Linked DNA regions of Homo sapiens: region 1 is linked to region 2. The links come from fine-mapping of genetic effects on gene expression. A gene starts in region 2. The other region holds a variant in brackets. All regions are shown on one strand. Distances are between the middles of the regions. Region 1 overlaps RREB1 (ras responsive element binding protein 1). Region 2 holds the start of RREB1 (ras responsive element binding protein 1).

Region 1 (4,381 bases), 150 kb before region 2:
GAGGCACCTGATATGAGCGAGAAAAAATGGTCTTGGAGGCTCTGCCCTAGCTGATGCCTCATGGAGGACAGATGAGCCATCCCTGCAGAGCCCTGCCCAACCCACCGAATCCTGACCCAAAGTTTTGGTGTTCTTCGTCATGCAGCAAAAGAGAACTGGAACAGTTGGGAATTTACTCAGTGACCCTGGGAATATGTATGCCAAATATCTATGTGCCAAATCACAACAGTGCCATGTTTCCTAGAGGCCACGCATTCCTAGTTTTCAGTAACTCCCTTTTCAGTGGACGACACACACCACCCATTCTTGGGGACTTCTGTTTTAGGATTTTTCTGGTGGAGAATTTCATCCCAACAAAAGCACTCAATAGCCAGCTGACCTGGGCAAATCATTTCAATGCTCGTCCCTGCTCTGAAGGAATAAGGATTTTTTTTCCTTCACAGCTCACTGGACTTGGGTGAAGAAAAGAAACAAAAACCACAGGAAAACACTGCAGTGTGCAAAGTCCTGTACAAACACATCTGAGAATGAGGAAGGGAAAAGTGAGGCCCAATGAAAAGAGCAACACTCACCAAATTAACACGGTATTTGAGAAGCGAGATGACTTCCTTAATTTTCTTTATATTTTCCTGAAGCTCCTAAATTTTCCACACTGAGCAAGGCGTTACTTTTACGTAAATTCCCATAAAAGAGTCATGTCAGATCCATGGAGGAAGGCAGGGCTGGGGAGCAGCTGAGCCCCTTGCTGGCCCCACAGCCTGGGAAGCAGATGCCACCGTGGGGACATGAATTCCTGCCCTGACAGCTGGGCAAGACTTGAAGTGGTGAACGGCAAGGGCCAGGGATGTCACTTCCCCACTGGGCTGTGGCTTCCTTCCCCTAACAGTAAAACGGGAAAGGAGTGACCGCTTGTTTCTTATTTAGGACACTGACTCTGGCAGTCTAGAATTGGAGGGGACTCTTTTGTTGCTAAAGAGCAACCTTCAATTACAAGCTTAAAATAAGCCTAGTCATCCTCCCTCACTCCTGTCCTCCTCAGGGAGGTGGTTATGAAGGGGAGAGGCCTGAGCGCTCCAGGCCCAAGGCTTAACACCAGGACAGGCAAGCAGGCAGCTGGCGCTGTTGGCCAGTGGTTGGAGGCCCCACTCGCTCCTCAGCCCTTTCAAAGTAGCCTTTGGAATCCACAAGGATGGCAAACAGGCAGAAACCCCAAACAAGACTCTTGGGGCACTCGGGTTTAGGCAGTGGCTGAGTCTGTGCTGGGGCTGGAGTAGGGACTGTGGAAGGAACCTCTGGAGGGCCAAGATCGGCACTCTCTAAAGCCATATGTGGCTTCTGCCCACTCATTCTGAGATGGATTCTGTCTTTGAGGGGGAGAATCCACAGCCGTCTCTGCAGCCAGCTGCCGAGTCCGCCATCCACCTTATTCTGAACCAAGCTTTGGGGTCTAGACCGGAGCTTCTCAAACTTCAATGTGTGCACATATCCACTGTGGCCCTTGTTCACATGCAAATTCTGACTCAGCAGGTCTGGGTGGGTCAGAGGTTCTCATTTCTTTTATTTTTTGGTTTACGTTTTTATTTTTGTGAAGATGCGATCTCGCTCTGTCAATCAGGCTGGAGTGTGAACATAGCTCACTGCAGCCTTGAGCTCCTGGCCTCAAGCGATTCTCTTGCCTCAGCCTCCCAAAGTGCTGGGACAACAGGCATGCACCACCGCACCAGGTCAACCTGAGGTTGCCATTTCTAACAAGCTCCCAGGGATGCTGATGCTTTGGGTCTTCAGACGACACTCTGAGCAGTAAGGTAACAAGGGACTAGGCCTCATCCTGGGTGCTAGGTCTATGCCGCCAGCTCCCCCATCCCCATGCCCCATGCCCTCCTCCAGTGGAGGAGGCTTTGGTCCAGGGTGGGGATGCTGGATAAGCACCAAGGCCCAGGCAGAGTCCTGGGGCCATGGGGAGGTCACAGGCTGAGCGGGAAGGTAGTGGGATTACAGGGCCAGAGGAGGCCAGGTAGGAGAAGGTGACAAGACTCCCTGGGGTTCAAAGACAGTGCCTGCATCTTGGTGATCTCCCACAAGGCCCTCCTCTGGCTGTTCCCCGCACTGTGCCATGAATGTGTGTGGTGAAGTTCTACCTACTTCCTCACCAGGCAACCAAGGAAGCATTCCCATGAGAAGACTGTAGAAACAATAACGAGAGCCCCTAACATGCACCTTATGTAATTAACTCATAGCATCCACACAACAGTGCCCATGAGGCAGGTACTATCGCTATCCCTTTCTTAGGAATGGTGAAATTGAGGCACAAGGCCATTCACCAGCCCGAAGAGGCAGAACTGGGATTGTCATGCCAGCCAGCTTGTCCCCAGCAACACAGCTCGTGGCCACTTCTTTGTCCTGCATCTCTAACACAGCGCAGGTGGTTGGCTATGTCTTTGGGCGGAGGACCTGAGGTTTGAGATCCGCTTACCCAGGGCTAGTACATCTCCACCTGCCACCGCCCACTCAGGCATGCGGATCCCCCAAGCTCCCACATATAAATGTGTGTTAAATTCTACGTCTTTCAACAGAGGGGCCTGAAAAAGCTTAAGGACCACAGCCACAGCTCTGGTCCTGCAGGGAGGTGGCACTTAGCAGTGTATGGTACAGTGCACTCAATGCATTTTAGCATTATCCACAATCAGCCTCCTCCA[C/A]AACCAACTTCTTTCAGTGTTCGTTTTTTTTTTTTTTTTTTTTTTGAGACAGTTTCACTGTGTTGGCCCAGGCTGGAGTGCAGTGGCGGCATCTCGGCTCACTGCAACCTCTGCCTCCTGGGTCCAAGGGAGTCTCGTGCCTCAGCCTCCCGAGTAGCTGGGATTACAGGCACACACCACCACACCCAAATTTTTTTGCAGTTTTAGTAGAGATGGAGTTTCACCATGTTGGCCAGGCTGGTCTCGAACTCCTGACCTCAAGTGATCCTCCCGCCTTGGCCTCCCAAAGTGCTGGGATTACAGGTGTGAGCCGCCACTCCCGGCCCAGTGTTTGTTTTTTTGAGATGGAGTCTCACTCTGTCGCCCAGGCTGGAGTGCAGTGGTGCGATCTCGGCTTAATACAAGCTCTGCCTCGCGGGTTCACACCATTCTCCTGCCTCAGCCTCCCGAGTAGCTGGGACTATAGGCACCTGCCACCATGCCTGGCTAATTTTTGTATTTTTAGTAGAGATGGTGTTTCACCGTGTTAGCCAGGATGGTCTCAATCTCCTGACCTTGTGATCCACCCACCTCGGCCTCCCAAAGTGCTGGGATTACAGGCGTGAGACACCGCACCCAGCCCCCAGTGTTGCTTTTTGAGAGCCACTCCCTAGTTATAGGAGTTGAGGCTCTGCTAGGAGTTGGGGCTCTGCTGATTGCTATTTTACCCAAATGTGAGTTTTAACCTGCACCATCCCCAGCCCTAGGGTTGCTGTCCCCTCCCGTCTCACCAAAATCTGGTCACACTAACAGATTTTGTTCTCCCTCCACTAGGTGCTGACTCAATCACTTACCACTGGGTTGGAGGAAGAAGAGGCGAGGCGGACTTCTTAGGCATTATTGCACAGGAAACAAAAATGCTGGCTTTAGCCAATGACAGAGTGGCCTGCACTGTGGTGCCTCATTAGGTCCAGCCTCCTGGCCCTGTGCACCCAACACCAAGATCTCCACTCTGAAGCTCTGACAGTGGCCATGCACTTAACTTTCCACATGCTCTCAAAGCAGCTCTCACAACTGCAGCCGAGTGCTTTTACATACAGCAGGGTCTTGCTGTGTCCCCCAGGCTGGAGGGCAGAGGAACGATCGTAGCTCATTGCAACCTCAAACTCCTGGGCTCAAGCGATCCTCCTGCCTCAACCTCCCAAATAGCTGGGACAACAGGCATGTACCACCATGCCAAGCTAGTTCTTAAACATTTTTTTCTAGAGATAGGGGTCTCACTATTTTGCCCAGGCTGGTCTTGAACTTCTGGTTTCAAGTGAATCTCCTGCTTTGGCTTCCCAAAGTGCTGGGAGCATAGGCAAGAGTCACTGCCACAGCCTCCAGCGCAAATAAAAATGCTGCCTGGGTGACAAGAGCTTTCCTGGGCACCTGTGACTCCCCCCAATGGTACTGCACACCTGGGACCTGCCCCAAGTGGGCTGTGGGTTTGGGGATGGGATCACAACAAATCACAGGACGGCCACGTGACCGGCAATCTGCAGCTTTTAAAATATAACATTTATTGCTTAAATGGTTTGATACAGAACAGCTTTCTTCTCATTCTGAATTTGGAAGTTCTATACAACTGAATACAAAGAGGAACAAAAAGTACCAAAACCAAACTTGTGATTCTCTGTTCATGTGGCATAAACCAGTTTTGTACA
Region 2 (4,381 bases):
ACATCAAAGCAGGACCCATCAGCGGGTACCCAGAAGGCTCCCTCCAAAGGGCGGAGGTAAACACATACACACACACACACACACCACCCCTAAAATTAGTGATTCTGTCTTTGTATAAATTACTTGTAGAGTAGCTCGAACCCATTCCTTCAGAAGTTCTGTGGACTCTTGAAGATAGCACAAAACTCAACGTTTGTTTTTCAAAGAGGTTTTAGCCAACACTTTGGCCTCTATCTAACTCAGACTTCCGGGTTGAAATATGTCTTAGAAACTATACCTGCCTACTTGAAAAAGCACCAAATCTAGAGGATGATTTTCATGGGTGTGAAAAAACAAAACTAAACCACATTCTTTTCTTGGCAGTTCTCTTTTCCCCACCTTCCACTTCAATTAAACTTATTTCAGAATCAACTCGCACACATGCAGGGTCCACTACATATATAAAGGGGAAAAAAAATATCAAAAATAATGGAGATGCACTAGCAACTCTGCCTTTGCAGAAATCATTTCTTCTTAAGACAGAAATTCCTCGCTATTTCCAGCAACACCATTCAACAGGCAAACTTTATTTCCACTGGCTTTTAAAGAGCTAAGCTTAAATCTAAACTCTAAGAGGGTTCAATTTTCTACTAATGAAAACCCCCGGACAGGTTTTTCAACATACCAAAACGTTATATTTTTTTATTCACCCTTTTGTCTCTCTCCACATCCACCACCATCACAAGCAGCAGCAGCAGGAGCATCCTCAAACGAAGAAAACCCCTCCAAAGTGCCCCGAATGTGTGCTGCTGCTGGCTCTGAAGCCGTGTAGAATTTCGTAATGGAATGTGAACTGCTCGTCCGGATCTGGGCTCACGTTCTATCTCCTAACCAGTAAGGAGCGAGGGAGGGCAAATCTGCTGAGCAAGGAGAAATACTTTCCTCCTCTTTTATAACCCATCACGGATGCACGGCGGCCGAGGGGCGCGAGCTGCACGCGGCGCCTGTCAAGCGGCCCGGGCCCGCACCCCGTGGGGTCCCCGCGTCCCCCAGCTCCCCGCCCCGCCCGGAGAGAAAGGTGGCCTCGCCCATCGGTGGGCTCGGCCGACGCGCCCCGCACTCACGCGCGGCCGCGGAGCAGGTCACATCCTCGACGCGCCCTTGGCCCGGTCCAGAAAACACGCCGCTTCCCAGGGAGGGGGTCGGCGACGGGAAGGACCTCCCCTGCTCCTTAGCAACCATTAAGGTCGCAGTTTCCTAAGAGACCGCGAGCGGGGAGGGGGCGCGGGGGGCCCGGCCCAAGGCTTGTGCGGGAAGTTGGGGGCGGGGGGGGCAGCAACAGGCCCCCTCCCCCCACCCAGCTAGACGCCGGGGGCCGGGATGGGAGGAGGAAGGGAAGCCCCAGAACTCGTGAAAAACTGGTCCAGCGGGCGGCGGACAAAAGTTTCCGAGCGCGCTCCACAGCTGGGCGGCGGAGCGGGCCCCGGCGGCCGGCCCCGCCTCGGATGCTCCCGGCCTCCTTCCTGTGCTCGTGACGGCGCCGAGCCCCCCACCCCCCCCGCCCGCGAGGCAGGCTAGCTCCACACCGAGGGCTCCCACGAAAACACTCACCCCGCCAACGGAAGGGCGAGGGAACAATACGTGCCCGCACGGCTAGGGCCCGGTCCCCTCCTCCCCAGGCCCCCCGGGGCGGTGGTCGGCGTGACCACGACCGCCAGCCGGGAACCCGCGAGGGCGCGGGGCTGCCCGCGGCCCCCTCCCGGCCGGCGCCGTCCGCCCGGGAGGTTCAAAGTCCGCAGAGCAGGGCGCGGCGGATGCTCCCACCGAGCAGCCCCGAGCAGGCACCCCCGCGCGAGCACCCCGGGCAGGCACCCCCGGATACCTTAGGGCGGCGGCGGGAGGGCGGGCGCCGTCATCTCCGCGCTTCCCGGCCCGAGAAGGACTCGAAAGTATGTAGGAGAAAAGTTTCCCCTCCCACATGGGGGGGAGGATGTCGAGGGAGAGAGGGCGGAAGATGGAGAGCAGCGCTGGGAAGATGTTTCTGGCCGGCGGTGCGCGCACCATCCGAGTCCCGGCGGTGCTGGTTAAAAATAAACTCGGCGGCGCGGGTCGGGCCGGATTCCTGCGCTCGGACGGCTAATATGGATGCGCATCAGGTCCTGCTGGCGGGGCGCTGCGGCGGCTCGCGCTGGGAGCTGGTTGGCAGAGCCGGCGGCTCGGGAAAGGGAAAAGAGCGGAGGAAGGGGAGGAGGAGGAGGAGGAGGAGGAATGGCCCGGCGCGCAGCCCGAGGGGAGAGGGCTGCCCCGCTCATCCCTGGCCGCCCCGCCGGCCCGAGCGCACGCTGCGCGGAGTGGGGCGTGCGGGTCCCCGGCTCCGGGACACACCGAGTTTCAAAAGTACAACGCGCTCTGCAGACTTCACCCTCCCCATCCCCAAAGTTCTTTAAAAGGTCGCTCCGGCTGTGCCCCAGACTTCTCGCTGCCGCCGGCGTACCGCGAGTCGGAATCCGGGGCACGTACTTACGGCCGGGCAGGACGCTTGGCTCCCTGGCATGATGCGTTGGGGACCGGTGGGCTTCAGGGAGAGACCGAGGAGAGATGCAAACTTGTTCCGGAAAAGGAATCAAAATGGCGTTTCTGGATGTGCAAAGTTCATCAACTCCGCAGTCACTTCCCCTCCTCCTCTTCTCCCACAGGGAGGGAGGTGGGCGAGGAGCTGGCGACCCCGGCGCCCCAGCCGTCGTCCCGGCCCCCGTCTCGGCCCCCCGCCCAGCTTCCTCGCCCGCACGCTCGGAGTCTCGCTCTCCCCCTCTCACCCTGATAAGTAGACACATCACGTGTTGCTCCTGCGAGTCTCCTGGGGACGTGTTACTGAGCGGCCGCGGCGGCGGCGGCGGCGGCGGCGGCGGCGCTCGGACTGGGGGGGGTGAGGGGGAGGACCGCCGCCCCCGCCCCGACTTTAGCAGGGTGACCGCAGTTGCCATCCCGGGATGGATGGAGGTGGAGTCCCCTCCCCACCCCCCACCGCAGCCCCAGGTTTGCCCTACGCCCTCCCAAGGCGCCCCGGGCCATGGGAGGGCCGGGCTGCCCGAGGGGAAGGGTCCGGGAGGCCGCGACTGGCTGCGATCCCAATCGTCCCGTTGCTCGCGGGCCACCTTATTCGGCCACCGCGCCCCCTCCCCTGCAGCCCCTCGCCGCGGGCGACTCCCCGCCCCCGGCTTTCCATCACTTCACTCCGCAGTTTCACTATTTTAACGGAGGCGGGGGAGACACGGTGATGCCTCGGAATTGCGAGAGGGGCACCTCAGAGGCGCTGGAGTTGGGGGGATGGGGGGCGTAGGGCTCGGGGCCCTGGCCTGACGCCGCCCCTCTGGGTCTCCGAGGCATCTGCGAGGGGGAGCCCCGCCCGCGCCGTTTCCTTTCCACGCGGTCCTCGCTCTGCATCCAGGTGGGGCGAGTGGATGATGGGGCAGGAGATTAAGGAGCAGGCGCTTCACCCCGCCCCTAGCTTCGAGCCGTTTCTCTCCCGGGGCCATCCTTCTTACTCGGGCTGCCGCCCTGAGTGTGCTCGCCGTCTAACAAACTCAACTCCGACCCGACTTTGGTCCCCCTCCCTTACCCACACCCCACAAAGGATGCTTCAGCGGGGAACTGCCGTGGCCGCCAGGGGCTGAGGACGGTTCCTGCCGCCACTGTGTCCCCACCCCGCGATGGAATGGCTGATGCTGTGTCATCCACGTCGCCCTCCAAGGCTTCAGAGAAGCCACACGCAGTATCTCTTTCTCTCAGAGGGCTCCTGTTTCAACTCTGAAAAGCAGGGGCCCTTCTCCGAGCCGCTCTCCATCTCTCCAGCTCCTGCCACCACGCTTCGCACTGGCTGCCTTGCCCCAAGTTATCACGGAGCCCAGAGAAACCAGGCCTGGGCTGTGCTTCCTCCATAAAGCAGCTGACATGTTTCCAACTGTTAATACTTCTCCTACCGAGGTTCTGAAAGGGGTCTGTTCTCAGCCTTTGGAAACATCTTCAGAAAGATAAGGATGATTGTGGTTGTTGAAAATAAACACGCCCCCCCCCCCCCGCCCCCGTAGTTCTAAAGAAGAATGTCCAAAGAATACTACAGTAGAATTAAGCGTTTGAGTCTGGTTAGGCAAGATGATGTTATGCAGGCAGAAAGCTGGCTACTTTCTATTTACTATGACCTTTGACCCTGGCTCCACCACACCAGCTCCTCTGAGAAGGCTTGAACACCATGGAGAGTTGTAAGCCCAACTGTGGGCCTTTAATTTGAGCCCTTCCATTGACCTCTAGTTTTCAGGGCTGCAGACAGAAGTGTCTGTCTCGGGATGGGTCCTGGCCAGAATAGAACTCTTTAGAACCAAGGAAAAGCAGCTGGACCCTTAGG

What was found. PIP is the estimated chance that this variant, and not a neighbour inherited with it, causes the effect.
Region 1: its variant is fine-mapped to the expression of RREB1 in monocytes after interferon gamma (Fairfax 2014, PIP 0.95).

What each region holds. Positions count from the first base shown.
Region 1 is chr6:7,251,814-7,256,194 of GRCh38, reverse strand. RREB1 (ras responsive element binding protein 1) reads right to left here. Exons shown (of 13, transcript NM_001003699.4): 13 at 4,215-4,381. Among named protein-coding and RNA genes, the nearest start is that of SSR1, 59 kb to the left of the region's middle. The variant C/A (reference allele first, on the strand shown) is at 2,697.
Region 2 is chr6:7,106,183-7,110,563 of GRCh38, reverse strand. It overlaps RREB1 (ras responsive element binding protein 1), which reads right to left and starts at 2,603. Exons shown (of 13, transcript NM_001003699.4): 1 at 2,504-2,603. RefSeq lists silencers at 1,235-1,324, 1,345-1,834, 2,625-2,844, 2,905-3,384 and an enhancer at 3,735-3,794.